2 separate regions of the Homo sapiens genome follow, and region 2 is linked to region 1. The links come from fine-mapping of genetic effects on gene expression. A gene starts in region 1. The other region holds a variant in brackets. All regions are shown on one strand. Distances are from middle to middle. Region 1 holds the start of TEAD4 (TEA domain transcription factor 4). Region 2 overlaps TEAD4 (TEA domain transcription factor 4).

Region 1 (16,074 bases):
CCGGAAGGTGGAGGCTGCGGTGAGTCGAGATCACGCCATTGCACTCCAACCTGAGCAACAAGAGCGAAACTCCGTCTCAAAAAAAAAAAAAAAAAAAAGACCCACATGTTTGAGATCAGATCACTGGTTGGGGGTAGAGGAAGACCCACAAAAATGGCGAGCTCAATACTTAACAGCTCAGGATATATAAACTTTCCAAAACCAGATGTGGCTTCCAATGTGGCCAGAGGGTCACAGAGCTTAGTGAGTAAAGGTTTCCCTTGACACAGACCTTACCACAGCACTGGCCCACACAGGCTTATGGTTTAATGGGGCAGTTTGAGAGTCAGATTGACCTGGGTCCAAACTCCAACTGCAGTATAACTTCTACAGTGTCCCCTCTGTAAAGTAGAGGTTGAAAAACAAAACAAAAACAAACCAAACCTTTCTCACAGGGCTGAGAGGATGAAATGAGATGATGAAGGCAGAAATGTCTAGAATAATGGTCTAGCACCTAACAGGCATTAAAATGTTCATTTCCCTCTTCCTTCGTTTTTCAGCCCAAAACCCCAAGCCTTTTCCCTCAACATGAATGAAGAGTAAGTCCCACTCTATTCTAGACTTACATAATTGATGCTTTGAACTTAAATGCAGGATGTTACACTTAGACCTATTACATTTCTTCTTGAGATAAGTATATGTTCAACATTGCTCAATGTCAAGTAATTTTTAAAAGCTAAAAACTAAAAACAATGTTTTAAAGTCAGTAGGGCATAGTTAAATATAGTATAGTCATAGAATGCAATGTTACTTGGATCCTTAAAATTATGGTTTTAAGTATTTTTTATGACATGCACTATTACCCATTAGATAGCATTCAGTAGGGAAAAAAACGGGATAGAGTATAATTGCAATTATGTTAAAATATATAGATTTGCATGAACACAAATTTGGAAGGACATTCACCGAAATACCAGCCCACCCGAATTATAGTATTATGTATCATTTTTTTCCTTTATGCCTTTCTTTATTTTCCAGGGTTCCTACAATGTACATATATTAATTTTAAGAGAGAAATATTTTTAAACTTCATCTTTCTACTTAATGGCAGCATTCCAGTCAACTGAGATGATTTTGAACCCTGGTTCTATCAGCCAATGTTTGCTACCCTCAACGCCCATAAAAACGAGAAACAGGGTCAGGTGCGGTGGTTCACTCCTGTAATCCCAGCACTTTGGGAGGCCAAGGCAGGTGGATCGCCTGAGGTCGGGAGTTCAAGACCAGCCTGGCCAGCATGGTGAAACCACATTTCTACTAAAAATACAAAAATTAGCCAGGCGTGGTGGCAGGTGCCTGTAATCCCAGCTACTCAGGAAGCTGAGGCAGGAGAATCGCTTGAACCCAGGAGGCGGAGGTTGCAGTGAGCCGAGATCGCACCACTGTACTCCGGCCTAGGCAATAGGGCGAGACTCCATCTCAAAAAAAAGAAATACGCCGGGCATGGTGGCTCACACCTGTAATACCAACACTCTGGGAGGTCAAGGCGGGCAGATCACAAGGTCAGGAGTTCGAAACCAGTCTGACCAATATGGTGAAACCCTGTTTCTACTAAAAATACAAAAAAATTAGCTGGGCATGGTGGCGTGTGCTTGTAATCCCAGCTACTTGGGAGGCTGAGGCATGAGAATTGCTTGAACCCAGGAGGCAGAGGTTGCAGTGAGCCAAGATCACGCCACTGCACTCCAGCCTGGTGACAGAGCAAGACCCATCTCAAAAAAAAAAAAAGAAAGAAAAAGAAATGAGAAACAGAAGACACAGGCCACACAGGCTCCTGGGAGAGGCTCGTATCTATGGAAAACATAGAGGACTAAGCCAAAGACAGCCCTGCGGCACATCACGGGGACCTCTTCACAGTAACACAAGCTCAGGAGTTAGGAGTCAGCATCCAGCGTAGTGGGTCAAGCAGTCACACATCCATCTCCCTGCTGTATCAGCCAGACCACACTGCTTTCTCTTGTACCAAGAAGATCATTAGACTGAAAAGGCTTACTGAACATTCCTCCACCCAAGTTAGAGTTGTTTTCTCCAAGACTTGGTAGAGTGAACCCAGGTTGGCTACTAGGTATCTCACTTCATTTTCACACTCTCCACATATTTTTGTTCAAAAATCTAACCTAGGCTGAGTGCAACCGTGTACACCTGCAGTCCCAGCTACTGAGGAGGCTGAGGTGGGAGGATTGCTTGATCCTGGGAGGTCAAGGCTGCATAAGCCATGACCGCATCACTGCACTCCATCCTGGGTGACAGAGCAAGACACTGTCTACGATAATAATAATAATGATAATTTAAAAAAATTTATGGCCGGGCGCGGTGGCTCACGCCTGTAATCCCAGCACTTTGGGAGGCCGAGATGGGTGGATCACAAGGTAGAGAGATCAAGACCATCCTGGCTAACATGGTGAAACCCCGTCTCTACTAAAAAATACAAAAAAATTAGGTGGCGGGTGCCTGTAGTCCCAGCTACTGGGGAGGCTGAGGCAGGAGAATGGAGTGAACCCGGGAGGCGGAGCTTGCAGTGAGCCAAGATCACCCCACTGCCCTCCAGCCTGGGCGAAAGAGCGAGACTCCGTCTCAAAAAAAAATTATTACACTGAAATTATTTTTGATAACACTAGGGTTTAAGAAAACACCAACATTAACTTCACTTTTTTTTTTTAAGGTGGCTACTAGAAAATTTTAAATTGGCAGGGTATGATGGCTCACATCTGCAGTTCTAGCACTTTGGGAGGCCAAGGTAGGAGGATTGCTTGAGCCCAGGAGTTTGAGTTCTGCCTGGACAACAAAGCGAGACCCTACCTCCACAAAAAAACTTTACAAATTAGCCAGGTGTGGTGGCGTATACCTGTAGTCCCAGCTACTCAGGTTAAGGCAATGAGGATTGCTTGAGCCCAGGAGTTCAAGGAGTGAGCCATGATTGCACCACTGAACTCCAGCCCGGGTGACAAAGTGAGTCTCTGTCTCAAAAAATAAAAAATCATTAAAAAACAAAATCTAACCAAGAATTGGGCAAGGAATCAATTCTAGGAGTCTGCCATTTCCAGGGTCCCCATCTTGCTTCCTTGAAGAAACAAATCAAGACAGCATGTGTTGTCTCTCCTACTCCTACCCTCCTTCCAGGTCCTGGCAGTGGTTCTGGGGTCACTCCTACACCTTCTCTTGGGACCCCAAAGCCTATCTGTGAGAATCCGGCAACCTGAACTCAGGCAAAGCAGCTTGTGTGGCCTGACTCACAATTCTCTCAGGGTAAGCTGTGGCCTCCTCACAAAGTCTGGTCGACCCTTACAAAGATGGAGGCAAGACAAGAGTCCTCCGCCTCCAGAACGTTCCACCCACTGTCTCGCTCTGCCTGCGGCTAAAGAAATCCCCCATGGCCAGGCGCACGGTGGTTCACGCCTGTAATCCCAGCACTCTGGGAGGCCGAGGCGGGTGGATCACCTGAGGTTGGGAGTTCGAGACCAGCCTGGCCAACATGGAAATACCCTGTCTCTGTTAAAAATACAAAAAAAAAAAAAAAAAAATTAGCCAGGTGTGGTGGCAGGCACCTGTAATCCCAGCTACTCAGGAGGCTGAGGCAGGAGAATCGCTTGAATCCAGGAGGCAGACGTTGTGGTGTGCCAAGATTGCAGCACTGCACTCCAGCCTGGGCAACAAAAGCAAAACTCCGTCTCAAAAAAAAAAAAAAAGAAAGAAAGAAATCCCTCACGTTGTCCAGCGACCCCAGCCTGGGGACTCCCTGTCCAGAGCTTTGCCCACAACCCAAGATCGCCGTTCCAGCCACAACTGCCCAAGGCTCACAGCCAAGGTGGAGACCAGCCAGGGAGCAACAACACCAGCCTTTTATCCCAGCCAGGATGATTCGCAAAGACATCTCAGGGGCTTGAGGGGAAGGGGAAGACCAAGTCCTGGCAGGGGCGAGCGTGGCACGAGCGGAGGCTGGCAAACACGAGCCCTGTGCTAGTAAGAGCCGAAAGCTCAGCACAGAACCGGCACGGAGCTCTAGCTTCACACTGAGTCAACGGCCCCCTTTGGAGGAGGGCCCCACCCCAGAGGCCCACCCTATGTGTCATCAGCCCCTCCCCAGCGCCCTCTGCACTGCCCCCAACCCTCTACCGGATATGCAATCCCATCCCCCAGGAGGGTCACCCCTGGCTCTGCACAGTTCCCATTTCCTGCCCCTGGTGACTCCTCTGAAGTCTATTGTTCCCATGAAGTTTGGGTCAAAGGAAGCAGAGTCCCCACCCATGGGGGCCCGCCTGCCCACACCAAGCCAAGGAGCCAGCCCCCGCTACAGGGAGCCTGGCCCATCCTCTGGCCCTTCCAGGAGCCCCCCTGTATTAAATGCAGGAGGACGTGGGCATAGATCTTGGAGACCTGAGTTCTAGTGGAAATTTTCCCAAATATCCAGTCCCCACCAGCTAAGGGCCCCAGGGCCAGATCACACAGGTGTGATTAGAATCTCCCAGATAGTAGCGGGAAAAACCAAAAGCAAGGGAAGAACCGTCATCTCAGAAAGCGTCCAGGCAAAAGTGGAATTAGAAGATAGGAGCTGGAGACCGTGTTCTCCCCAGTGACAAAGCCCTGCCCCCACCTCCACCTGGGCCCTCCTGGCTGCTGACAGCCCCCTCACCCCCCTTTACTGGACAGCAGCTGTTCAGCTCCAATTTCAGAGCTTTAAAGGGAGCTGTCGTCCAACCCCGGCCAACAAAGGGTCATGGGGGCAAAGGAAGACAGGCAAGGTAAAGCCACCCTCACAAGCCCTGAATTTCCAACTGCCACTGGACTGACCTCAACTGCAGGAAAGGCAAGGTCCAAAGCTGGGGACCAACGTCCTCCACTTCCACTGGGAAGGAGAAGGAGGAGCCACAGGTTTGGCAACAGGCATTGCTTTGTGACAGTCACCGGGGCAAGACTCCAGAGTGGAAATCAAAGGAGGTTGTGACATTTGCAACCCAGGAGATCTAAAAAGATAGGGAGAACCTTCACCTGCCGGCTCATCAAGGGGAGAGGAGGGTGTGTTTTAAAGACCCGAGGGCCCCTTCCCGACTCCACAGATTCTACAGTGAGATGGCTCCTTCCCCAGAACAGCTATGTGCTTTCTGCCAGGTCGGAGCAGAGTATTTCTGCCTCCTACCAACCTTATCTGAGCGACAAGGCATGGCCCAAGTCAGTCTGCTCCAGCTTCCGCGCCTGTTGGATGAAGGCGGCTAGGGGGAGTAGGGGGTGTACAAGCACTGCAATCCACAGGGCAGGAGACAGAACGCCAAGGGGAGAGCATAGGTTCTAATCCCTGCTCTGCCACTCACCAGGGTTGCGGCATTAAGCAAGTTACTGTCCCTCTAGGAGCATCAGTTTCCCCATCTTTAAAATGGGAGACTTAGGCCAGGCGCAGTGGCTCACGCCTGTAATCCCAGCACTTTGGGAGGCCGAGGCGGATCACCTGAGGTCAGGAGTTCAAGACCAGCATGGCAAACATGGCGAAATCCCGCCTCTACTAAAAATACAAAAAACGGCTGGGAGTGGTGGCTCATGCCTATAATCTCAGCACTTTAGGAGGCCAAGGTGGGCAGATCACCTGAGGTTGGGAGTTGGAGACCAGCCTGACCAACATGGAGAAACTCCGTCTCCACTAAAAATACAAAATTAGTGGGGCACGGTGGCGCACGCCTATAATTCTAGCTACTTGGGAGGCTGAGGCAGGAGAATCGCTTGAACCCGGGAGGCAGAGGTTGTGGTGAGCCGAGATCGCACCATCGCACTCCAGCCTAGGCAACAAGAGCGAAACTCCATCTCAAAAAATATATATATATATTTATATTTATATATATATTTATATATTTATATTTATATATATAAATAAATATATATAAATATATATATATGAAACTAGCCGGCCGGGAGGCTGAGGCAGGAGAATCGCTTGAACCCAGGAGGCGGAGGTTGCAGTGAGCCAAGATCATGCCACTGTACTACTGCCTAGGCGACAGAGCGAGACTCCGTCTCAAAAATAAATAAAATAAAATAAAATAAAAATAAAGTAAAATAAAATAAAATGGGGGACTTAGATGCTGACATTAGGGTATCTAATAATGTTCAGCAAGCTCACCCTGGGGCCAAGGCAAAACTGGAATCAGAAAATAGAAGCTGGCACTCTGTTCTCTGGTGACAAAGCCCTGTCTGTCCCCCTCCCTCCTGACCTGGGCCACTAGGACCCTGGATTCCTAAGGACGCGGAACACAGCGTAGGGCCTGGCTCACAGTAAATGCTCGATTCATGTTTGCTAAATAAACATGATAGACAGGGCAAGGTTTCTCAAATGGTGCTCAGAGAAACACTAATTCAAAAAACACTAATCCCTAGGAAAAAGGGGTTCTTACTGAAATAAGCGAAGGAAACACTGGATACAACAGCTATCCTATGGAGTCCATGGGATGTGCCAGGCACTGTGCTGCTGGGTGGGGGCTCTGCAGACATCGACTTTTCACAAGAAACTTTCTGGACAGAAAAGCTCCGCTCGTATTACCCACCAGGAAACAGCCTGAGAGCCTTAAAGGTAGTGAGAGACTCAGGATTTGTACCCTGGTCTGCCTGACCCCAAACCTGTGCCCTTTCCACTCCATCAGTGCTGCTTTTAGACCAGTCGCACACCAGGCCGAAGAGGTGAGAGGGTGAGGTGTTTCCCACAAGAACATCCACATCCTCAGGATGGATGGAGGAGCAAGGACGAGAACCCCCAACCCCCGAGACAGTTTCTGGCTCCTTCCTTCCAAGAAGCCCTACACATGATATCCACGTTGAAGCCCTCATGCAACAAGCTACTCATTCCTCTTCTCAAAGGAAGTGCTGAGTGTCTGGCAAGTTGGAAAGAATGAGGGATTCTTCTACTGGGTTACCTGGTCAGCTCCGAGGAGAGTTAAACCAGGAAAAGTAGTTCAGGCTGGTATACCTCCCTGTTTGTCCTTGAGGGCAACTTAAAAGCACTATTTACACAAGTCTCCAGATTCAAAACTGTCTCCTTTTCCCGGGGATCCACCCCGACAAACCTTCCCAAATCTCACCCGCCCATCCCATCCCCCAAAGGCAAAGATCTCAACTTCCTTCAGCCTCCTACCAGCTTTTTGACCTATTCCAGGCAAGCACAAGACCCTCGCCCTGAGAAAGTCAGCCTCCTGGCTCCAAGAGGCAGGTGGAGCCAGCTTCCTTCCAGCTCTGCCCGGTCCAGGGGAAACGGAGCCTGGAGGCCACACACTCCAAAACCACAGTCAAATTATCCCTGCACTCAGGCAACCAGAGACACTGACTCTTGCCCACGGCTATGTAGGGAGGAAGAACAGTCCTAGCCAGAACCAACATCCTCGAAGAGAAACACATACTCAAGAGACGTGGCATCACACACCTACTCAGAGATACTCACTTTCAGACAGCCCCTTCTCACGCAGACATATACACACACTCTGTCACTCACGTTCAACACAAACAAATACGCCCACTGGAAGCCAAGGTGAGCCACACGTGAACAGACATCACCCACACAGAGACTCAAAGCGAGGGGGACTCGCAGTCAGGTGTCACACAGACTCAGCACAGACGCAGTCAGTCCGCGGGGCCTCAAGTGCCTCAGCACAACGGGGGAAATGTTCACTTTGGGGTTTGAAAGTTCTGCTCCCTGGATCGATCCACTAGTCCCCATCAGGAAACACAGCAGCTTCCCAAGCCCTGAGGTGTAGGACCTTTTGCAGGGGTCCCCCGACTTTCGCATCGCCTTTGCACTTAAAACAGGCAGTCCGCTTACCTCCAGGTCTCTCCCTTCCAGGCTCGAAAAGGGCCCAGCAGAAAAGAGGCATGGGTGCTGGGTCTCTTCTGTTGCCGATGCTCTCGGTTCTGCCTCTCCGGTCCTTTCCACACCGGCCTCCCTTTCCCCCAAAGTCCCGAGTGTCCACCCCCCTTACCCGCCCCTGGAGCCGCTTCGCCTCCAGCAGCCTCAGTCGCGCCGCCTCCACGTGCCTCGCTCTTCCCAGTCTCGTCCCGGGAGGGAGCTCCGCACGCACCGCGCAGACTCCTGCCCTCCGGCAAAGTCCTACCAAGTCCCCGCGCCCCAGCCTTACCGGTCCCAGGGTGCGGGAAGGTGGGATGGGTGCGCTAAGCCAGTTCCAAGGAGTCCGCCCCGAGCGCCAACTCTTCCGGCCGCGGCGATCGTTCTGCGGGGACGACAGGGCGTCAGCGCGCAGAGCCGGGCTCCGGCCGGGGCCGACGGGCGGCGCAGTGAAGGCGGGGCCGCGGGGCCAAGCCCACCCCGCGCCGACCGGCCCCGGTGCGCCCAGCGGAGCGGAGCGGAGCGCGCGGAGGGAGGAGTTTTCCCAGAATGGGACTGACGGGAAAACACGGGGATCCCTATTCCTGGAGGAGTGAGTCAACCGGGAGCGAGGAGGGGAGCGCGGGGCGGACAGGAGGGAAGCGGGAGAGGGGCAGCGAGCAGCGCCGGAGCGCGGAGGGAAGCCAGAGGTCGGGACGGAGCGCGTCGGAGCGCAGAGGTCCAAGGCGGGAACGCGGGCGGCGGAAAGAAAAGAGCAGCCGAGCACGCGGCGCGAGCGGTCGGCTGCGGCGGCGTGGGGCGCGCGGCCCGTGAGGGCGCCGGCGGGTGCGGCGGGCGCGGGCGCCTCTCACCTGGCGGGACGCGGCGGCGCCGGAGCTGCGGCCCTCCCGCCCCCTGGCCTCGAGTGTGCGAGGAGGACGCTGGAATGCGCGGAATGAGGGCTGGAATGAGATGCGCGCCGCGGCGGGAGGGAGGGAGCCGGAGGGAGTGGCGGCGGGGCCACCGGCACCTCGGGGAGGAGACTGCGCCGCGCGCGGGCGGGCGAGGGGCCGGGCCGCCGGGGCGGGGCGGGGCCGGGCCGGGCCGGGGCGGGCGGCGGGGGAGGGGGCCGAGGGACGGCGGGGACCCCTCCACCCGGGCCTCGGCTGCGGCCCCCACGCCCACTAGCCCTTCGATCTCTCCGCTCCGACTGTTTGGCTGCTCGTTGCGCGCCCCGCGCCCTCCCCTCCTGGCGGGGTCCCGACTCCCTTTCCCAGGAGCCGAGAGCCTTCCTCTTCGCCGGGGTGGGGCTGTCCCGGGGGCGGGGGGGTGGACGGGGCCCAGACTCCCGCCCCGCCACCCGGCGTCCCTCCGCACGAGTCCCTGGGAGGCCGGGGAAGGGGCGGGCTCCCGGCGCGCAGGAAGGGCTGCTCCCTTCCTGCGGCTCCCACCAAAGGACACTTGCTCCGGGGAACCAGGAAGCAGGAACTCGCGGGCTCCATTCCCAGATCCGCTGCCAGTGCCCCCTCGCTTGCCCTCCCCGGCTTTAGCTCTTTCCGTTTTTCTCTCCTGCCCCTTGGGCATCTGTAAAACCGCCACTACGAGTAAACCACATGGGAGAAAGGGCACTCGGTTTGAAGTCCATGTGGCATGCCATGGGACGCCTTCTGGGCTCAGTGACTCAATGAATATTCATCTAAGATGTGTGATGAGTCCAGATACTGTGAAGATCAGGATCAGCCGTCAGCACCTGCCCTCAAAGAGCTCAGAGTTTAGCTGGGGAGGCCTCGGTGTATACTGCCATCGGTGAGAGTCTGGACTTCAGACACACATGCCCAGGAGTCTCTTATTGGGGCAGGAGGTGCTGGAAACACGCTGGGCTCCTTGTTTGGAGACGCTTAGGACAAACGGGCTTAAAGCAGTGTGCTGGCAGGTAGCGCCATCATCTACCTGGCCAGGAGACTGAAACCAAAGGACTTTTGGCTTTTTCCAAAAATCAAATCCAACCTTTTCTGGGGCATTATCACTTAGCCTTGTGTTGGGTGGTTGTCTAGATCTTATCTCCCTTGCCAAACAGAAACTTCCTTGAAGACAGAGTAATGTCTGATTTATCTTATCTTTCACACAGATCCAGCCTGGTGCCTGGGATAGGGAAGTGCATGATAAATGCTGCATAAATGAAAAACAATTGCTACCGTGGAAGATATTGAAAGGAAAGTGCTATCGATGCCAAAGTTGTTTCCAAGAGAGGTATTCCAAAAGTGTTTCAAGCAATGACTGAGCTAAGCATCCAGTCCTGCAAGGTGAAGGCGTTGAAGACGCAGCCCTCATTTGAATAGATGAATTGTGGTATTCTTGTTAAATAATGAATCATATCAAGGCTTGGTCACACCTCATGCACATGAAAAGACCAAAACGCAAGGCAGCATATCAGCGCCACGTGAAGTACACACTAAGCACCAACTATTTAATTCAGCAATCATGGGGGGCCCGGTGGCTCACGCCTGTCATCTTAGCAATTTGGGAGGCCGAGGCAGGTGGATCGCTTGAGCCCAGGAGTTCGAGATCAGCCTGGGCATCATGGTGGCCTGCACCTGTAGTCCCAGCTACTCAGGAGGCTGAGGTGGGAGGATAGTTTGACCCCAGAAAGTTGAGGCTGCAGTGAGCCGTGAATGCACCACTACACACCAGCCTGGATGACAGAGCGAAACCCTGTCTCAAAGTAATTAATAATAATTATATTAATTCAGCAATCATTGGAGTGTTTGTTGACTTTGACACCGCACTAAGGGAAGGAGTAGGTCCCTTTCCTCAAGTAGTTCCAGTCTAGGTGAGAAGACAGACAATTATGCAAAGTTCAATGGGAACCCAAGGGAAGGAACAGTGAAATCCAATTACAGTGCATTTGATCTAGCTCTTGAGGATAAATGAGGGTTTGCCAAACTGAGACTGGAAACCCCATTTAAGACACATGGAATAGCACCTACAAAGGTGAGGCAGCCAGTCTGCTGGTGTGTTTAGCGAAGCTATGTAAACTGGTGTGGCTGGAGAATAGAGATGTGGATAATAAGATTGAAGGAAGTGGATACCAGACTTTGAAGGTCATTGCGTGCCATGCTGAAGAGTTAGGCATCAAAAAAGACACAAGTGTGACTTAATCAGCAGCACCATCAAGAAGACCGTCTTGCAACAGTCTTGCAGTTGAACTGGAGACTCGGGGTGCCCTAAAACTCAAGCAGTGGTCCTGAGGTTGAGGAGGAGGGGAAGGAGCTAGGAAACGGTTCAGATCATTTGGCTGTGTAGTGAGAGAGAAAACAAAAATCGCTAACCTTTAACAGCTGAACAATGGTTGGTGTCAGTAAGTGAGATAAGAATTCAGGGCTGGGCACAGTGGCTCATACCTGTAATCCCAGCACTTTGGGAGGCTGAGGTGGGTGGATCACGAGGTCAGGAGTTCCAGACCAGCCTGACCAACATGGAGAAACCCCATCTCTACTAAAAATACAATATTAGCTGGGCGTGGTGGTGCATGCCTGTAATCCCAGCTACTCGGGAGGCTGAGGCAGGAGAATCACTTGAACCCAGGAGGTGGAGGTTGCAGTGAGCTGAGATCACGACATTGCACTGCAGCCTGGGCAAAAAGAATGAAACTCCGTCTCAAAAAAAAAAAAAAGAAAGAAAGAAATTCAAGCAAAAGGGGAGTGGGGTGAGGTCGGAGGGGAATCCAGCCAGGTTCAGGGGACGGAGAGGAAAGCAGGACAGAGTCCAGAGTAGAAACAGGAAAGCAACCCTAGTGTCACGGTTAGGGTAGACTGCTGACAACGAACTTGGAGATCTTTATTCCCTCTAAGTCTTAACTATCCAAGACCATCAGTGATCCAAGCTGGGAAGGTGTGTCTTCAGGATCTTGACTTTCTGGCCCATACCCTTATAGTCTCCTGGAGAGCTCTGGAGCTTTGGGGACCTCAGGCTTGGAGCTGTTGAGGAATGTCTAGGTAAAGGAAAGTTAACAGATGTACAAATTCTGAAGAGTTAAAGGCAAGGTGATTTTACCCACACATCAGCCCTTCCCAGGGATGTTTACATTTCTTAAGGGACAGGACCCTAATTCACTGACCCTCAGGAATGAGTCTTTTGGTGGAAATATTTCAGCTGTCTGGATCCTACAAATGGATCCTCACTCAAGCTTGATGATGGACTGTGCAGGAGGAGGAGAGTAAGGGTGTGGGCAGGGCTGGGTGGTTTCATGTAGGGGTATTTGTGTTGGCTATATTCCAAAGTCAAAGTTAAAAATCAATTAATTGGGCACAGTGGCTCACATCAGTAATCCCAGTACTTTGGGAGGCCGAGGTTGGAGGATCTCTTCAGCCCAGGAGTTTGAGACCAGCCTGAGCAATATAATGAGACCTTACCTCTACCAAATAAATAAATAAATAAAAATTAGCTGGGCATAGTAGCACACACCTCTGGTCCCAGCTACTTGGGAGGCTGAAGTGGGAGGCTTGTTTGAGCTCGGGAGGTCAAGGCTGCAGTGAGTCGTGACCTCGCCACTGCATTCCAGCCTGGGCGACAGAGCAAGACGTTGTCTCAGAAAAAATAAATAAAATAATATAAAATAAACCAGACACATTCATGATATAAGTGGAAAAGCAGATTCTAAAAATTATATATAGGGGCTGGGCATGGTGGCTCACACCTGTAATTCCAGCACTTTGGGAGGCTGAGACAGGCGGATCACCTGAGGTCAGGAGTTCGAGACCAGCCTTGCCAACATGGTGAAACCCCATCTCTACTAAAAATACAAAAAATTAGCCAGGCGCGATGGCACGCGCCTTTAGTCCCAGCAACTTGGGAGGCTGAGGCAGGAGAATCACTTGAACACAGGAGGTGGAGGTGGCAGTGAGCCTAAATCGCACCGTTGCACTCCAGCCTGGGCAGCAAGAGTGAAACTCCATTTCAAAAAATAAATAAATAGCTGGGCGTGGTGGCTGACACCTGTAATCCCAGCACTTTGGGAGGCTGAGGCGGGCGGATCACCTGAGGTTGAGAGTTCGAGACCAGCCTGACCAACGTGGAGAAACCCCGTCTCTACTAAAAATAGAAAATTAGCCGGGCGTGGTGGCGCATGCCTGTAATCCCAGCTACTCAGGAGGCTGAGACAGGAGAATTGCTTGAACGCTGGAGGCAGAGGTTGCGGTGAGCAGAGATTGCGCCATTGCACTCTAGCCTGGGCAGCAAGAGCGAAACTCCGTCTCCAAAAAATAAAATAAAATAAATAAATAAATAAAAACTATATATCAGATGACCCTGTTTTTGAAAAAAGTTGAAAAAGTATTTTAAAGGGATTATTTCTGAAAGTTTGCAAATTAAGGGGATCTAGTTTCTTGTTTTTATTCTTTTTTTTTTTTTTTTTAAGACAGAATTTTGCTTTCGTCGCCCAGGCTGGAGTGCAATGGCACAATCTTGGCTCACTGCAACGTGCGCCTCCCAGGTTCAAGCAATTCTCCTGCCTCAGCCTCCCCAGTAGCTGGGATTACAGGCATGCACCACTGCACCCAGCCCTATTCTTTCTTTTCTTTTCTTTTTTTTTTGAGACGGAGTCTCGCTCTGCTGCCCCGGCTGGAGTGCAGTGACGCCATCTCGGCTCACTGCAAGCTCTGCCTACTGGGTTCACGCCATTCTCCTGCCTCAGCCTCCTGAGTAGCTGGGACTACAGGCGCCCGCCACAACGCCGGGCTGATTTTTTGTATTTTTTAGTAGAGACGGGGTTTCATCTTGTTAGCCAGGATGGTCTCAATCTCCTGACCTCGTGATCCACCCGCCTCGGCCTCCCAAAGTGCTGGGATTACAGGCGTGAGCCACAGCGCCCGGCCTCCTATTCTTTATTTTCTGTAACAAACTTGTAGTTTATAATCAGGGACAAATGTGACTAGAACTATATATCTAACCCTTCCCTAATTTCTCCACATCTTTAAAAAACAAAACCCTTTACACATATGAAAATATCACATTGTGGTGCTTGCCTGGGCAGCACATATACTAAAATTGGATACTGATACAGAGAAGATTAGCATGGCCCCGAGCTCACAAATTCGTGAAGTCTTCCATTAAAAAAAAAAAAAAAAAAAAAAGGCCAGGCGCGGTGGCTCACGCCTGTAATCCCAGTACTTTGGGAGGCCAAGGCGGGCGGATCACGAGGTCAGGAGATCGAGACTATCCTGGCTAACACGGTGAAACCCCGTCTCTACTAAAAATACAAAAAATTAGCCGGGCGTGGTGGCAGGCGCCTGTGGTCCCAGCTACTCGGGAGGCTGAGACAGGAGAATGGTGTGAACCCGGGAGGCGGAGCTTGCAGTGAGCCGAGATGGCACCACTGCAGTCCGGCCTGGGCAACAGAGTGAGACTCCATCTCAAAAAAAAAAAAAAAAGGCTGGGCGTGGTGGCACACGCCTGTAATCCTAGCACTTTGGGAGGCTGAGGCAGGCGGATGACGAGGTAAGAGATCAAGACCATCCTGGCCAACATGGTGAAACCCCGTCTCTACTAAAAATACAAAAATTAGCTGGGCGTGGTGGCACGCACCTGTATTCCCAGGTACTTGGAAGGCTGAGGCAGGAGAATCGCTTGAACCTGGGAGGCGGAGGTTGCAGTGAGCCGAGATCACACCACTGCACTACAGCCCTGGCGACAGAGCAAGGCTCCGTCTCAAAAAAAAAAAATGTGGCCAGGCACGGTGGCTCAAGTCTGTAATCCTAGCACTTTGGGAGGCCAAGGTGGGCAGATCATCTGAGGTCAGGAGTTCGAGACTAGCGTGGCCAACCATGGAACCCAGGAGGCAGAGTGAGCCGAGATTGTGCCACTGCCCTCCAGCCTGGGCGACAGAGCGAGACTTCGTCTCAAAAAAAAAAAATGCACATTGTACACCATAAATATATACAATTTTTATTTGTTAACTATACCTCAATAAAGCTGGTGGTGGTAGCAAAGAGATTATATAGGATTAGAAGAACTCAATGAATAGGTTCTGAGTAAACGCCACCATGTAAGTCTTCTAGACTTCTTATCGATCCACTCATTATCCTACATATTTGTTTCAACTATTGCTGACTGCCAGTTTACAACTCTAGAAACTTTTTTCCCCAGTAAATCAAACCATTCCCACCAAACAAACAACTGACAGCTGGATTGAATGGCCTAATAGGAAACTGACAGAGTAAAGAGAGATTGTTTCCTAGCTTTTAGGTGAAAGGCAAATATTTTTCTTTTTTTTTTTATTTTTGAGACAGTGTCTCGCTCTGTTGCCCAGGCTGCAGTGCAGTGGTGCAATCAGGGCTCACGGCAGTCTTCACTCCCTGGGCTCAAGTGATTCTCCCACCCTAGCCTCCCAAGTAGCTGAGACTACAGGTGTGCACCACTTCACTTGACTAATTAAAAAAATTTTTCTTTGTAAAGACAAGATTGCCCTATATGCTCAAGCTGGTCTCAAACTCCTGGCCTCAAGCCATCTTCCTGCCTTGGACCTCCTAAGTGTTGGGATTACTGGTGTGAGCCACTGTGCCGGGCCACATCTTGCTTTGGAGATTTCCCCAAAGCTGCTCCCCATACCTTGGAAAGTATTATGCAATGACTCCTGCTGGTCAGCTGTGACTCAGGTGCTTTTTCTTTTTTAACCTCTCCATCCTATATTTATTTATTTATTTATGTTTTTTTTTTTTTTAGTAGAGATGGGGTTTTGCCATCTTGGCCAGGCTGGTCTTGAACTCCTGGCCTCAAGTGATCCGCCCACCTTGGCCTCCCAAAGTCCTAGGATTACAGGTGTGAGCCACTGCACCCGGCCCATCCTATACTTTTATTTACTTTTTTCCTTAAGAGAATGTTCACTTGACATCAGCTGAACTTCATTTTGTGCTTTGAAGGACAAAACAGACCATTTCCTGTTTTTTGTTTTGTTTCTTTTTTTTTCTTTTTTTTTTTTTGAGACGGAGTCTCGCTCTGTCACCCAGGCTGGAGTGCAGTGGCGCGATCTTGGCTGACTACAACCTCCACCTTCCGGGTTCAAGCGATTCTCCTGCCTCAGCCTCCCAAGTAGCTGGGATTACAGGCGCCCGCCACCACACCCAGCTAATTTTTTGTATTTTTAGTACAGACGGGTTTCACCATGTTAGCCAGGATGGTCTCGATCTCCTGACCTTGTGATCTGCCCGTCTCGGCCTCCCAAAGTGCTGGGATTCCAGGCGTAAGCCACC
Region 2 (16,074 bases), 54 kb before region 1:
GTAGGGGTCGCTGTAGCTTGGGCTGGACTGGCCAATGTGCACGAACAGGTGCTTGTTGTACTGTGGAGAGAGTGGGTCTGAGGGAGACGGAGCACAGGCCAGACGGTCAGACAGACAACCCTGGCTCTGCGTGCCCACCACGTGACCTGGTGCAAGCCGCTTGGCCTTTCTGGGCCATAGTTTCCCCATGAGTAAAATAGAGATGGTAAAAGTCTACTCCTTTTGTTTTACATCCTGGACTTCTAAGTAAAGGTCTATTTGGTTCATGGGTTCCTCAGCTAAAAAGAAGTCTGAGCCGGGTGCGGCGGCTCACACCGGTAATCCCAGCACTTTGGGAGGCCGAAGTGGGTGGATCACTTGAGGTCAGGAGTTCAAGACCAGCCTGGACAACATGGTGAAACCCAGTCTCTACTAAAAATACAAAAATTAGCCAGGTGTGGTGGCAGGCACCTGTAATCCCAGCTACTCCGGAGGCTAAGGCGGGAGAGTCGCTTGAACTCAGGAAGTGGAAGTTGCAGTAAGCTGAGATCATGCCACTGCACTCCCAGCCTGGGTGACAGAGTGAGGCTCTGTCTCAAGAAAAAAAAAAAAAAAAAGAAGTTTGAAGATGTCAGAGTGAGAAGGGCCCTGGCATCCTGTCACCTTGGCCTCCTCCAGGTCCCCCTCTGACCTTTGCAGGTGACGCTGGTCACCCAGGACACTGGACACCGAAGGGGACAGGCTGGTATCCCATAGGATATGGAGCAGACACAGGAGACTCCTCAGCTTCCTGCCCGCTTCTCAGAACCAGAGAGAGGCTGGGACAGTGTAGGGGTGGGGCTGGGACCAGAGCAACCTTGGACTAAGGGTCGGTTGGGTTAGGAGGGGAGGAGGAACACAGGACAGGGAGGGAGGAGCGTGACGCTGACTGGGCGCTGGGACACGGAAAGGAAGCCAGGGAGGAGGGAAAGAGGGAAGAGGGGTGACGTGAAGGAGGAAAGGAGGAGTGGGGGGAAGGGCAGAAGGGAAGATCGGAAAGGAACAGGGAACTTGAATTAAGCCCCAGCATGGAGTGGGGCAAGACTGCCGGAAGCAGAAACAGAGGGAGAGGGGGTGACCAGGGAGCTGGACAGGCAGAGGCCAGGACCTACCGTGTCCGGGTCCTGCTGCTGCTCCAGGAAGGCAGAGAACTCCAACATCCAGAGCTTGGAGCTGGCCACGCTGCGGCCCTGCCATGGGGGTGCCGGGGGCGCAGAGGGCGATGGGGCGGGCCCTGCAGGAGACTCAAACCCTGCACAAAGTGAGAAAGGCACATGGAACCTGGTCACGGACACCCGCCCTGCCCGCACCCTCTGCAAGGACCCCAGGCCTCCTCGGACAGACCCGTGCTGCCTGGGGGGACCGCCTGTCTCCCTAAATGGACCTCCTAGCAGAGGTGGTGGAGGGAGTGCCAGGCTTGGGCCAGGGCATCCTGGAGCTGCCCTGGTGGGGAGGGGCTCGCCTGGTACAACTCGGGCCACTCAGCACTCTGCATGGAACCGCCGAGCAAGACTGGATTCTGGAGGGCAGCTGGGGCCCTGCAGGACCGAGAGGCTTCCAGAACAGGCACTGTTAAGTTCCTGCCCTCAAGCAACTTCTGTTCCAGTCGGGGAAATAACCAGATGAATCCACTATTACAATATGGCATCATCCCGGAGAGACGGGGACGTTTCCTGTTTGCATCACATGTGTCTCCCCCGCTCCCAGAACAGGGCCTGGCCCAGAAGAGCCCCTCAATCCAGCGTTGCTAACAGATGAACCTACTCCAGTCCTACTGTAGTTTAGATCGTGTCCTGAAGGCACCAGGGGGCCAGGAAGGCACCATAAACCTGGAAGCAACACCGTGAGACTGAAGCTCTGGTGAGTGACAGGGTGACGAGAGGAGGTGAGACGGGACAGCGAGCCGGTGGAGAGGCTGCTGCAGGAACGCAGGCAAAAGCCAGCAGGCCTGGAGTGAAGACATGGTCAGTGTGGACAGAAGACTGGCATGAGACAGAGGGTGGACGGGACCTGACGCTGTGACTTTGTTTTGATGTGTGAACGAGAGAAAGCAGCCTTCAGGACCTGGGGGACAGAAGGCAGCAGGGCTGCTCTTGGTGGCAGGGAAAGCCAAGGGGCCGGGCAGGCAGACTCCACACCAGAAAGGGCAGTTTAAGAGTGAGGAGCTGGTCTTGTCCTACAGAGTGGGAGGTGGTGAGGGCCCCTCCTGAGAAAGAGACGAGGACAGAGCAGAGCCTGTCAGTGAGAGGGCGGGGTGGGGGCTCCTGTCAGCACCGCTGGCTGCCTCCACCAGGTCTTCTCCCACAAGGGTCCCTCTTCTCGGGAGGGGCTCCAGGCTGGTGAGCTAGACACCCCTCGGCCCTCCCAGGACCAGGTGTGTGAGGCACACTGCAGTAACAAGGCCGGCCAAGTGGGGCAGCCGCCAGGGCACGGGCACTGCCCTTGGAACTGCACGTGCCCCACAAGCCCTGAGCACAGCTTTGAGGGGACAGGAGCAAGGCAACCCGAGGGGCATGAAGGGGCTTGGCACACGGCTGAGGTGTGCATGCTGGGGGAAAGGAATGGGGTGTGGCCAGGGACTAGGACGTGTGGTCAGTGTGCATGACGGGGCAGCATCTAACAGGGACACGCAGGCGTTCGGCTGCCGGGGGCCTGGACCCAGAGGCAGGAGCCACATGGCTGCGATAGAAAGGGGGCCACGCAGCGCCCACCCACCTGGCAGAGGCAGCGGAGGCTGGACAGCATAGGTTTGCTGAGAGAAAGGCTTCACACTGCGGGAGAGAGAGGAGGGGAGGTGTCAGCCTCGGGCAGGCCACCGCCCCGGATCCCTGCACTGGGTCCAGTGGTCTGTGTGGTAGGTCCTGGTGGTCTGGATTTCAGTGGTCCCGATGGGCCTTGGCCTCCTACTCCCGCCCCTGCCGACTCCCCTGGGTTTCGTGGCGGGTCCACAGACACAGCGTGTCTGCTGAAGAAATCCACCCCTCCCTCTCCTCCTCCCAGGCCAGCCAGAGGTCTGCTTCCCAGCCTCCTCCCCTGGGGGACCCCAGCTCTGGCCCTGCCTATACCCTGGACAGACTGGAGTTTTGGCAAATACCACCCTAGGGTGTAGACATCACAGATGAGCCCAGTGATGGCTGACAGTAGAAGAGCCCAATCCCTGAGCTCAGAGCCATCCTGAAAGGCCGACCCCAGCAGCGGCCCCAGCACACCCTGGGGCCCAGGCTTAATGCCATGAGTTTATGGGTTCAAGTTCAGTTCAGGGAGCAACTGGCAAGAGAAACCAGAGGCCATACTCACTCATGGGACGTTCCGGCTTGGCCTGGCAAAGCTCCTTGCCAAAACTGAGGAGGCAAAAGGCATGGAATCAGCACGGCCCCAGGTGCACCCGGGGCCCTGTGGTGTGGGGGTGGGGGTAGGACCGGGCAGGGCCTCCACTGGGAGGAGAGGCTGGAGCCCGAGGCCTCGCCTAGCTAGTGAATGCTAACAGGCCACAGCAGCACCCCCAGAGTGAGTTTCAGGGGGCTCTCAGGCCCTGTGGAGGAGGGGCTCCATGGGAAAAGCACCCAGGTGTGGTCCACACAGCACAGGGCAACTCCTGCAGAGTCACAGTGCAGACCTAAGGCTCAGAAAAGTCCCAGTGCCAAGAACCCACTTAATGCCAAGGGTCCCAAACTTACTCACAGAACCACTGTGTCCTATCTGTTTAACATGCAGATGGACTAGTGCTCTCTGGGACGCACTTTGAAAAATGCTGTGGCCTGGCACTGCCCCTTCCCCACGTGCCTAGGGCGGTGCTGCAGGTGCCTTGAAGACTCATTTAGTCCCTGGAGCCAAGAAAGCCCCTGTGAGGAGACAGCTCTGAAAAGGGGCCTTTCTGGATCATTCTGAGAGTGTGGCCAACATGGTCATGGCTGGGAAAGTTAAAATCTGACCAGGGGTTTGTTTTTGGGGCACCAGCTCTCCACCTGGCAGGAGGGCAGGAATGAGGCTGCGTGGCACGAGCTGCCCAGGTACATGCTGGTCTCAGGCTTCCGCTCAGCCCCCTTGGCTTCAGCTTCCTCATCTGTAAATTAGGCCAACATGGCAGAGCTACCAGGTGGTCAGCTCCTGGAAGCTCCCCCTTCCCCCTTGTGAAGTCTGTGGAGTCATTGCCGAGGACCCCAAGAAAGCCGTCCCAATACCAGCCAAGCCGGGATGTGTGTGGCCCTTGGGTCCTTGTTCCCTCCTTCCCTGACTGCCCTGGCCAAGAGGACTCAGGTGAGAGAAATCTGGGCTGGCCAATGCTTCTGGCTCTTCTGAACAGGGAGGAGGGAGGAGGAGAGGGCTGGCCTGGCCTCCAGCTCTCGGCAGCCCACTTACCCCTGAGACTGCTGGGCGGCCGGGGCCCCGGGCGAGGGCCATGCTACTGTGGAAGGCCGTGGCGGAGATGATCTGTGCAGACGACATGGCAGCCATGCTCTGCAGGGCCTTGTCCTTAGCTGCCTGGTCCTGGGGGAGACATTGCAAGGGAGGACCTCAGCAGGGTCACTAGTCAGGCTGAGGCCAGGCAGGTCCGGCCCTCGGGTCAGGGAAGCTGTCTCGCTGCCAGTGGCCAGAGCTGGGGGACCAGGCGTTAAGTCTGTGCCGTGCTATTAACTTGTTTTGCAACTGAGAAAGTCAGCTGGTTTCTCTGGTCAGTTTTCTCATCTGTCAAAGGGGCATGATACTTGCCCTGCTTCTTTCATCAGAGCTTACAGAGACATTATCTGTCATTTTATTAATTACGGGGCCACCTTCTATGCCTTGCTCACCTCTCTACCACAGGTGCCTAGCTCAGCACCTGTCTTGTGAAAACGATGCATGAATATCTGCTGGATCCCTCCTCGAGTGCACAGGAAGCATCATCCCTGGCCACACGGGCTGTCTGGAGGCAAGAGACCACCTCCTGTGGCCCCTCCTGCCTCAGTCCTGCCCTAAGGATCTCCCTGGGCACTGTAGGCACCTGGGACTCACCCATCTTTCATGTGTCAGAGTGTAAATACCCACTGTCTGCCCTCCAAAGGTTCCAAGACCCCAGAGGATGGGTTCACCCTGAATAGGCCCGGAACAAATAAGCACACAGGGAAAGCCACTTGGATGGCACGGGTAACAATAGTAATCGTTTGTTATATTCATATAAGCCAGTGGTTTCCATCCTGAGTGCCCGAATTCCAAAGGTCTTCAAAACCAATGACACAACATTCCCTATTTCAAGAAGCCTAATGGAAACTGTGTCTTTTTCTTCTTCTTTTTTTTTTTTTTTCCAGAGACAGGGTCTCACTCTGTCGCACAGGCTAGAGTACTGCACAATCATGGCTCACTACAGCCTCAAACTCCTGGGCTCAAATGATCCACCCATCTCAGCCTCCTGAGTAGCTGGGACCACGGGCATGCGTTACTGTACCCAGCAGGGATTATCCAAAATAAGACCACACACACACGGGCTGGAACAGCAAGTATTATTCACTGTCTGCAGCTTTATCGGGGCTAAATGGCTCGACTGAGTCAACTCAGGGGCTCTGATTAGAAATTTGATACCTGGCCGGAAGTGGTGGTTCATGCCTGTAATCCCAGCTCCTGGAGAGGCTGAGGTTGGTAGATCGCTTGAGCCCAGGAGTTCTAGGCCAGCCTGGGCAACTTGGTGAAACCCTGGCTCTACAAAAAATACAAAAATTAGCCAGGTGTGGTGGTGTGTGCCTGCAGGCCAAGCTACTCAAGGAGCTGAGGTGGGAGGATTGCTTAAACCTGGGAAGCAGGGGCTGCAGTGAGCTGAGATTGCACCACTACACTCCAGCCTGGGCAACGGAGCAAGAATCTGTCTAAATAAATAAATAAATATCTTTATGATGATTATTATTTTTTCAGACAGCATCTCATTAGCCCAGGCTGGCCTCAAACGCCTGGCTTCATGTGATCCTCCTGCCTCGACCTCCCAGTGCTGGATTATAGGCATGAGCCACCGCCCCCACCCATGAATTTTTTTTTAATGACAAAGATAAAACCATTATTGAATAACTAATAATAATTAACTTGGTAGACCTGGATCTCCCTTAAGTGATACAAAGGTTGAGAACCTCCCAACTACTTGGGAGGCTGAGGCAGGAGGATGGCCTCAGCCCAGGAGGTCGAGGCTGCAGTGAGCTGTGACAGCACTACTGCACTCCAGCCTGGGTGACAGAGTGGAGTCTCTAAAACACAAACTAAAAACAGAAGTTGAGAAGCAACGGTGAGCCCTGCAGCTCGCCAGCTCTTCCGAGGGATGCCTCCACGCGGTCCACACGCAGCTCCATGAGGTGGGCAGCACCGCGGCCTGGAGGCTCAGGGAGGCTCAGAGAGGCTCAGTGCTCCCCCGCCATCCTGGTGCCGTGCAGGTGTGAAGCCAGAACACAGCAGGCCCTTCCACTCATCCTCTCAAGGTGACCATTTCACCCATGTGGCATGAGGCAGCCCACGGAAGGTTTTCAAGAACACAACCTCACTGAGTCCTGTGAGACTGACAGGACTTGTAGGATCATTAAGATGAAGAAACTGAGGCTCTGAGAATTTGGGTGACTAGGGTGCTGAGAGTGGTGATGGTGACCAGGTGAGCTTGGACCAGACTGGCACACGGGGGGCCATGCAAACCAAGGGGTCGGGGGAGACGCACCATAGAGGGCGGTGGGGAGTAGGGAACTGTTCCGAGTAGTGGGTCATTGTCGATGTGGACAAAGCAGTGAAATAGATGAGGTTTGTCCCTGGCCCCCCTTGGCCCCCTCCCCACTGTCCTTTTGGGGCCAAACTTGGGCTTTGCTCTCAGAGGCTGTCTCTGATAACCAAAGAGGGAGCTAACTAGTAAGTCTAAGTGTGTGTCTCCTCCCAGGACACTTGGAATTTTCAGGAGGAAAGTGCCCAGGCCAGCCCCTGACCTCTCCCCGCAGGAGGGCATGAGGGACTTGGCAGGCGCACCCTTGCGAGCCCGAAGACCTCGGCACTTAACAACTCCATCACGAGGCCGGGGCTGCATCTACTCAGTGCCTGCCTTCCTGGATACTCGATCTAAACAAACGGCTGGGGCTCAGGAAACCGCG[G/A]CCTGGGCAGGGTGGGGCAGGGGTCAGAGGAAGTGGGAAGGACCCGATGGGGAGTGACAGCAGTAGCCGGGCAATGGAGCCAGGGAGCCACTAACCGGGGCCGGGAGGGGAACTTGGATGTCACCTTGCTCGCCTGTCACTTTACAGATGAGGAAACTGGAGCTCCAGGAGGTCCCAGTGACTCTGCCCAAGCACTCACGGCCACGGGGCAGAGCCAGGCCTAGGACCCAGCCTCTCACTCAGGGATTTCTATTGGATCACTGTCCAACCCAGAGCTTAATCACTTTGGGTTCTAGATCCTTTGAGAATATGACAAAATCCTCACAGCAATCTCTCCAAGGCAACTCACATATACATGAAAATTTGCATATTTTAAGGAGTTTATGGCTCCCCTTGGTGTCTGTCCAGCCATCCACTGAAGGCTGTCCTTGGGCCCCAGGTCAGAACCTGTGGACAAGGACAAGTACAATTCCCTGAAGCAAATGTGGGCCACACAGCCGGCCCCCAAGGGATTGCCCTAAACCCAGTAGTGGGAAGTCTGTTCACCGTGGTCATCTGCAGGGTCCCGGTGAGTCAGAGGCAGACGAAAGAGGGGAAACAGGGAGCAGGGCTGGGTTCCATGGCTGTGGAAGCTGAGGCTGAGAGGCGGGAGCAACAGCTGAGGGCTGGTCAGCTGTCCCAGGGAAAAAGGAGCGAGGTGCCAGGCCACAGCTGTGGGGCTTGGGGAACAGCTGGGCTGATGGCAGGAGGAATGGAACTGAGTGGGCAGTGGGGTGTGGCTTCCTAGGAGGCAGAAAGGTCTGTGGTTCCCACCCACTCGTTCTGAGATTCCAGTGTCAGGATCATGAACTGCCAGGGCCAGAAGGGACTTTCAAGGTCATCTAATTCAGTGGCTTTTCTTTAATATAAAAAATATTTTCAGAGATGGGGTCTCACAATGTTGCCCAGGCTGAAGTGGCCAGTCACAGGTGCAATCACAGCCCACCGCAGCCTCCAACTCCTGGCCTCAACCTCCAAGTACCTGGGATTACAGGCGTGCATGCCCAGCTAGCCCAGTGGCTTTTTTTGAGATGGAGTCTCACTCTGTTGCCCAGACTGGTGTGCAGTGGCACTATCTTGGCTCACTGCAACCTCCACTTCCCAGGTTCAAGTGATTCTCCTGCCTCAGCCTCCCGAGTAGCTGGGATTACAGCTGTGTGCCACCACACCTGGCTAATTTTTATATTTTTAGTAGAGACAGGGTTTCACCATGTTGGCCAGGCTGGTCTTGAACTCCTGACCTCAAGTGATCCGCCCAACTCGGCCTCCCAAAGTGCTTACAGGCGTGAGCCACCGCGCCTGGCCTCCCAGTAGCTTTTAAACTGGATTCTGAGGTCCCCTAGAGTTCAAGTTCCATGGGGTGGGAAAGGATGCGCGGGAGGAGAGGAGCTTTGCCAACCTAGCTTTGACCAGAACGGCTCCTCTGATAACACATCAGGGTGATATTTTGTTGGGGGAAGAAAAGAAAAGGGGCTACATTGCTAAAAAAAAAAAAAAAAAAATGTTTGCAGGCCAGGCCCAGTGGCTCATGCCTATAATTTCAGCACTTTGAGAGGCCAAGGCAGGAAGATCTCTTGAGCCCAGGGGTTTATGACCCGCTCAGGCAAAATAGGGAGACCTCATCTCTATAAAAAAATAGAAAAAAATGGCCGTGCAGTGGCACTTGCCTGTGGTCCCAGATACTCAGGAGGCTGAGGTGGGAGTGTGATTGGAGCTTATGAGGTCGAGGCTGCAGTGAGCTATGACTGCGTCACTGCACTGAGCGTGGGTGACAGAGACAGATCCTGTCTCTAAAAATAAATAAATAAAAATGTTTATAAATGGTCTAGACTTAATGCCTCAAATGTCAGATCTTCCCACCAACTTGCTGTGTAGCCTCTGTCGTCATCACCTCCCTGATGGAGAGCTCACTCCCTCCCAGTGTTCACCCAAAGGCCCCTGGTTCCAGGGTCCCAGAGGCCTGACTCCTGTGGGGAGCAGGGCTACCCCGAGGGGAATGCCAGCAACATCAGGCCCCCCAGAGCCATCACCTATCAGCAGAGGCCCTGCAAGACGGGGCTGACCCAGGGAAGGGAAGGAACACCCAGTCCCACAGGACAGGAAGCAGGAAGGAATTTGCCAGCTCCCACAGTACCATAAACGCCACCCCCACCCCCACAGCAGGCACCCCCCCATGCCCCTGCCACTCCGCATGCTCTGGTCGAGGGCACTGAGGGGCCCTCAAGAAATGAGGGCTGGTGGGTGATCCGGCTGCTCTGAGCCGTGTGAGCCCCTCTAAGCAGGAGCCAGCAAGGGGGGATCCCAGCAGGAGCCTGGCCTGTAGCTCCCAGGGTGTGGGGAGCCAGGCATCCACACACTTGGCCCTCTTGTGCGGATGGGAGAGAGGTTACAGGCCCAACCTGGCTCTCCTCAACAGAGAGAAAAGCACACTGACTTGCACACCAGCAGTGATGCCCTGACCCCAAAGGGAAGATATGCTGCTGGCCACCACTCCTGGCCACTCCAGCACCCCCACTGCAGTTTCCTTACCTTTAGCTTGGCCTGGATCTCGCGAGCTTTGCGACGAGCCAGCACCTGGATGTGGCTGGAGACCTGTGGCAGGGAGAGAGGACTCCTGTCTCTACCTCCCAACAACCTGTGTTCCCCAGCCTGGCTTCCTGACTCTCGCCCTCCACAGCCCTCAACCCACATCTGTGGACCAAATGAATGAATGAATGAAAGGGTCAACTGGTGGGCCCTCAGTCCTGCCTTGCCCAGCTAATCCAGAAACCGGCAGTATTTCAAAAGTGCAGTGCCGGCAGGGAGCAGTGGCTCACACCTGTAATCCCAACACTTTGGGAGGCCAAGGCAGGTGGATCACTTGAGGTCAGGAGTTCGAGACCAGCCTGGCCAACACAGTGAAACTCCATTTCTACTAAAAATACAAAAATTAGCTGGGTGTGGTGGCGCATGCCTGTAATTCCAGCTACTCGGAAGGCTGAGGTAGGAGAATCGCTTGAACCTGGGAAGCGGAGGTTGCAGTGAGTTGAGATTGCGCCACTGCACTCCAGCCTGGGCAACAGAGCAGGACTCTGTCTCAACAACAACAAAAAAGAAAAGTAGTGCCAATGTTTTACTGTCTGTCCTAGTGTCCTGGAGAAGGATGAGATGGGGGCTGATGACTTTCCAGAGAGGCGAGGGGTTTCCTCCTAAGTGATGGCAGCAGGGACCCCAAGAAAACTGGACCACCCGGCCGGGGGTGGTGGCTCACGCCTATAATCCTACCACTTTGGGAGGCCAAGGCGGGTGGATTACATGAGGTCAGGAATTCGAGACCAGCCTGGCCAATGTGGTGAAACCCCGTCTCTACTAAAAATACAAAAAATTAGCCGGGCATTGTGGCGGGTGACTATAACCCCAGCTACTCGGTAGGCTGAGGCAGGAGAATCACTTGAACCCAGGAGGAGAAGGTTGCGGTGAGCCGAGATCACGTCATTGTACTCCAGTCTGGGCAACATGAGTGAAACCCCGTCTCAGAAAAAAGAAAGAAAAAGAAAACTGGACCACCTGTGACACGCCCAACAGGGATAACTCATCCAGAGCTGCCGCCCCTCAAAAGCCTGCGTCTGGTCCTGGGAGGGCCTGGCCCACCTTGGGAGCAGACTGGTGCTGGGGTACCACCCCCGGGACCCCTACCCGTCTCTTGAGGCCCACCTGCTTCCTGGTGCGGGTCTTCCCTGTCCGGAGCTTGATGTAGCGGGCAATCAGCTCGTTCCGACCTGCAGAGACACCAGCAGCCTCTCAGTGGAGAGAAGGACAAAAGGCTGGAAGCAGTGAGGGGGTGCGGGGTACCTTCTGCGGAGGAGCCCTGCCCTCACTCTCTGCCCATCCTAAGCGGATTTGTGGGGTGAGGATTCTGTGGGTTCCCTCTCTGGATCACAGGGATCTCCCAGCAGCGAGAGGAAGACAAGGCCTCACTGTGGGGACTGAAACCCGAGAACAAGGTTAACAGGGCCCGTGGCCACCAACCACGCACAGCCTGAGGAACTTCCAGAGCCTCCCTTGACCCCCGGTACCGTTCCTCACCCAGCGCTGGCGGCCTCCTCTCCTCTCCCCACACTTTCTCCTGGGCCTTCTTCACACTTGGGAGGCTCCAGGGAGCTGCCCGGCCCTCGGCCTTGCCCTGTGTGACTGCCACCGTGCCCTCCGCCTCTGTAAACGAGTAGAAGCGTCCAGACTTCTTGTCCTGTCTGCAGGCAGCAGCGGGCATGGGGGGTGCAACTGCTGGAGACACTTAGTGTCCCTGGAGAGGAGGCCTGAGCCCGTCCGCTCATAAAGAAAAGCCAGTCAGTGCACATGTGCAGCCCCATGGCTGACTCAGACCCCTCAACAAGGAAGGTTGAGCACTCTCCATGGGCCCAGCCCCCGAGGGACTGCTGCTACGCCTGAAGCATCCTGGAAAACCCCAGAGCATCCATGGTTTCCAGTATTGAAAAAGATGATGGAAAGGGGTTCCTTATTTCAAAGCATTACCTAGTTCAGGAGCGGCATGTGCCCACACAATGGAATCCAGGGGTGCTACGGACAGGGACGTGTTCAGAGGACCGGGGGCCAGTTCGGGCTGGGTGGTCAGGCAAGCCCTTGGGTGGCCCTTCACCCCTGGCTAGTGTTAAACCATACGGAGAAGCATCGGATGAGGAGAGGCAGAGCAAGAGGGTTTGAGTGGGGGGATCAGAGGGAGCAGGTGCCAGCCCGCCCTGTGCTGCGGAACCGGGAGGGCTTGCGGCTGTCCGTGGGAGGCAGCTGCTGATGCCCGGGGAGGTGAGGGGAGTGGGCTGCCTGCCACCTGGGTTGTAACCAGAGTGCACGGCCAAGGCCAAGCTGACCCCCCAGCTGACCTTTCCCCAATGCCAAGGCCGAATTACGAGGCTACTCTCCAGAGGTACTGTCTGCCAGAAAAGGTGTGCTGGCCTGGGACCACTGCCTCGTCTGTGTCAGAGGAAGGAGTGGGGGGAGAATCGGAGTCTGGGGACACTGTCTGTGGTCTGATCTGCACCTGAAACCCTGAGTCCACAAGATGTCTCCTCTCAAAGCTTTCTAGGGAAAGGCTTTGGCGGTCCAGTGAACGGTCGACAGTTCTACCCCAGGTCTAACTAAAGCCACCCATGCAGCATCTCGGGTCTAAGTCATCACCGGTGGGTGAATGAAGTAGGGCCACAGACCTGGGAGCTGGTGAGCCAGGCTAGAGCCTGGCAGCTCCACCAATGAGCTTTGGGAGCACGGTAAGTCTCTTCCCTTTAAGGACTTTCACTCAGCCTTCTCTTCTTCTTTATTTTTATTTTTTATTTTTTTTAGACGAAGTCTCGCTCTTGTCCCCCAGGCTGGCGTGCAATGGCACGATCTCGGCTCACTGCAACCTCCGCCTCCCGGGTTCAAGCGATTCTCCTGCCTCAGCCTCCCAAGTAGCTGGGATTACAGGTGCGTACCACCATGCCCAGCTAATTTTTTTGTATTTTAAGTAGAGGCAGAGTTTCACCATGTTGGCCAGGCTGGTCTCGAACTCCTGACCTCAAGTGATCCACCCGCATCAGCCTCCCAAAGTGCTGGGATTACAGGCGTGAGCCACTGCACCCAGCCCAGCCGTCTCTTCTTAAATCTAGTTCCTTTAAGGTTTTTCCCGCAGATTCTTCCAAATTTCTACAGATGTAGGAAACAGACCTCAACGCTGGCTCAGTGAGAACACTCTGTGGCTCAGTATCCTTTTCGGTAAAATGAACATGCTCTAGGCCCAAGTAAGTAACCCAGCTCAGAGACTAGTCTACGGGCAAGGAAAAGCATGAGGGAAGAAGAGAGGTTCCCAAGAGCTGCGAAGTGGGTGACGGTGTAGCAGGAGGGATGGGGATGGCAGACCATCTGGGATACGGTTCTTGGTTGCTCCTCTGGCCCGTCCCTTGCACACAGGATATCGTGTGCTCATCAGTTATCCATGTCTGTCTTTCCTTGTTAGACTCTCAACAGCTCAGAGGAAGAGACTATGCCTCCATTCAAGTCTGCATCTCCAGTACCTGGCACCTACTCACTGAATGAATGAATGAGTCTGGTGTGGCTCTACCTCCAAAACATATCCAGAATTCATACAGCCACTGTGCACCACCGCACCCTCCAGGGTCCAAGCTCCCGCCATCTCTGACTTGGATTAGGATCATCACCTTCCACCTGTATTCCCTGCTCCAAGTCTATGCTCAACACAGCAGCTGCAGCGACCCTATCGAAATTCAAAAGCCCTCCAATGGCTTCCATCTGCCCCAGATTAACAGTGTCCAAGTCCTTACAACGGCCTGGAAACCCCTGCAGGATCTGGCCACCCCAGTTCAGTCACCTCTCTGATCTAGTCTACCCGATCCATCCTAAACTTCTTGCTGTCCTGAAACACACCAGGCCCACACCTGCCCCACTATGGTCCTTGTGCTTCCTGTTTCTCCTCCAGGGAACACTCTGCCCCAGAGTCCCACACCACCTGCACCCCTTGGGTGCCACTGTCTCTTCCCTGACCACCCCACTGAGGGCTGAAATCATACTCCTACCCGCCCACCCTGGCACCCACTGCCTTTACTTTCCTCCACAGCACCTTCTAGCATAATACATAATCTAACTTATTTCAGTACTGTCTGTGCCCTCACCCCCGTCAGAACCACAGTCCATGCGAATAGGGATTTTTGGTCTATTTATTCACTTATTTATACCCACCACCTAGAAAACTGCCTGCACATTGTAGGCGCTCAATAAATACTTGCTGCCTGAATGATGAGGGAATGAATGCTAAGATGCTGGTCAGATGTCCCGTAACTGTTTTAGCCTTCTAAGACAAAGGAGTAAGTTAAATACATGCAAATAACCTTTTACTTCTGATTAGTCCGACGTAACTCTTAAGGCGCTGTCCTATCCTGGTCTCATTGAACTTTTCTGTACATGAGCAAACCCAGACTTTTGTGAGGCCTAAGACATTTAGCAATTGGGAGGCTCCCTTTGGGAAAAAGAATTTTAAAAATACAAAATTAGGTTAAAAACTTGGGGGCAATGGACACATTCATTATCTTGATGGTGGTGATGGCTTCACAGGTGCATACATCTGTCAAAATGTATCAACTTGGCCACTTTAAGCATGTACAGTTTGTTGTAATGTCAGTTATACTTCAATGAAGCAAAAATTAAGTTTAGGGACTTGGAAGGGGCCCATGTAAGTGCTGGGTCCTAACGCGTAAACCTCATTAACTTCACAGTAAATCCACCTCCTCCCTGCAGTGGGCAGGTAATTATACCTATTTGCCAGAGAACTGCACCAGATCACCCACAGCAGACCTAGGACTAACTGCCCAGGTGTGACTCTTGGCTCAGGTGCTTGAATATGGCCCGAGGCCTGGCCAAGCGAGGATGCTTAGTTAATGGAACCTCCTCTCATCAGGCAGGACTGCCCCGTAACAGTGCTGCTTCCTCTGCAGCCTGTGGTGAGAAGCAGTAGGGAGGCCTTGGCCCCCATCAGCTGAGACCCTAACCCCAAACATCACAGAGGACTCAGCCTCTGCAAGGAGCCCCTGCCCACCACCCCACAACTACCCTCACCCTCTGCCACAAGGTTCCAGGGCTCTGCTGCTAGAAAGGCCGTCTCAGCCCCCGGCGAGAGGCTAGTAATGGGGCGGGACAGGAGCCACACCAAGGGGTCTAAGGCAAGCTCAGCCGTCTTCTTTTTTGTTTTGTTTTGAGAGGGAGTCTCGCTGTCGCCCAGGCTGAAGTGCAGCTGGTGTGATCTCGGCTTACCGCAACCTCCACCTCCTGGGTTCCAGTGATTCTCCCACCTCAGCCTCCCAAGTAGCTGGGATTACAGGCGCACACCACCACACCTGGCTAATTTTTGTTATTTTTAGTAGAGACAGGTTTTACCATGTTGGCCAGGCTGGTCTCGAACTCCTGACCTCAAGTAATCTGCCCATCTCAGCCTCCAAAAGTGCTGGGATTACAGGCATCAGCCACCACACCCGGCCCATCTTTGTATTTTTTTTCTTTCTTCTTTATTTTTGATTATTTTTATTTTTCACTTTTTTGAGACGGAGTTTCGCTCTGTTGCCTAGGCTGGAGTGAAATGGCGCGATCTTGGCTCACCACAACCTCCGCCTCCCAGGTTCAAGTGATTCTCCTGCCTCAGCCTCCCAAGTAGTTGGGATTACAGGCAACGCCCAGCTAATTTTGTAGTTTTAGTAGAGATAAGGTTTCTCCATGTTGGTCAGGCTGGTCTCGAACTCCCAACCTCAGGTGATCTGCCCACCTCAACCTCCCAAAGTGCTGGGATTACAGGTGTGAACCACCACGCCTGGCTTTTCTTTCTTTTTTTAAACTGTACATACTGGTTGACTAGCCCTTATCTAAAATGCTTGGAACCAGAAGTGTTCCAGATTTGGGGTTTTTTTCAAATTTGGGGGCTATCTGCACTATATACTTGCCAGCTGAGCATCCCTAATCCTAAAATCCGAAATCCAAAACGGTCCAACGAGCATCTCCTTCGAGGCACACATCTCAAAAAGTTTCGAACTTTGGAGTATTTCAGATTTTGAATTTTCAGATTTGGGATGCTCAACCTGTATTTATGGGGTACAAAGTGATGTTATGATATACGTATATAATCTGCAATGATTGAATCAAATAATTAACATACCCATCATTTCAAATACTTATCATTTTTCATGATGAGAACATGAAATTTACTTTCTTAGCAACTTATGAAAAATGCAATACGTTATTATTCGCTACAGTCACCATGCTGGGCAATAGGTCTCCAAAAACATTCCTCCTTGACTGGGCGTCATGACTCACACCTATAACCCCAGCACTTTGGGAGCCTGAGGCAGGAAGATCGCCCAAGCCCAGGAATTCAAGATCAGCCTGGGCAACATAGTGAAAC

What was found. PIP is the estimated chance that this variant, and not a neighbour inherited with it, causes the effect.
Region 2: its variant is fine-mapped to the expression of TEAD4 in lung (TOPMed, PIP above 0.99). The same link has a PIP of 0.9 or more in subcutaneous fat.

The regions. Positions count from the first base shown.
Region 1 is chr12:2,952,108-2,968,181 of GRCh38, reverse strand. TEAD4 (TEA domain transcription factor 4) reads right to left here and starts at 8,785. Exons shown (of 13, transcript NM_003213.4): 1 at 8,701-8,785; 2 at 8,142-8,234. LOC124902859 (a long non-coding RNA gene) reads left to right here and starts at 8,134. Exons shown (of 2, transcript XR_007063159.1): 1 at 8,134-8,441; 2 at 9,957-10,584. It also overlaps the pseudogene RNU6-1315P. RefSeq lists enhancers at 1,012-1,511, 3,424-4,249, 7,880-8,615.
Region 2 is chr12:3,005,830-3,021,903 of GRCh38, reverse strand. It overlaps TEAD4 (TEA domain transcription factor 4), which reads right to left. Exons shown (of 13, transcript NM_003213.4): 4 at 10,836-10,900; 5 at 9,672-9,734; 6 at 4,378-4,506; 7 at 3,316-3,359; 8 at 2,734-2,789; 9 at 1,131-1,270; 10 at 1-60. Among named protein-coding and RNA genes, the nearest start is that of TEAD4, 54 kb to the right of the region's middle. RefSeq lists an enhancer at 7,427-8,268. The variant G/A (reference allele first, on the strand shown) is at 7,104.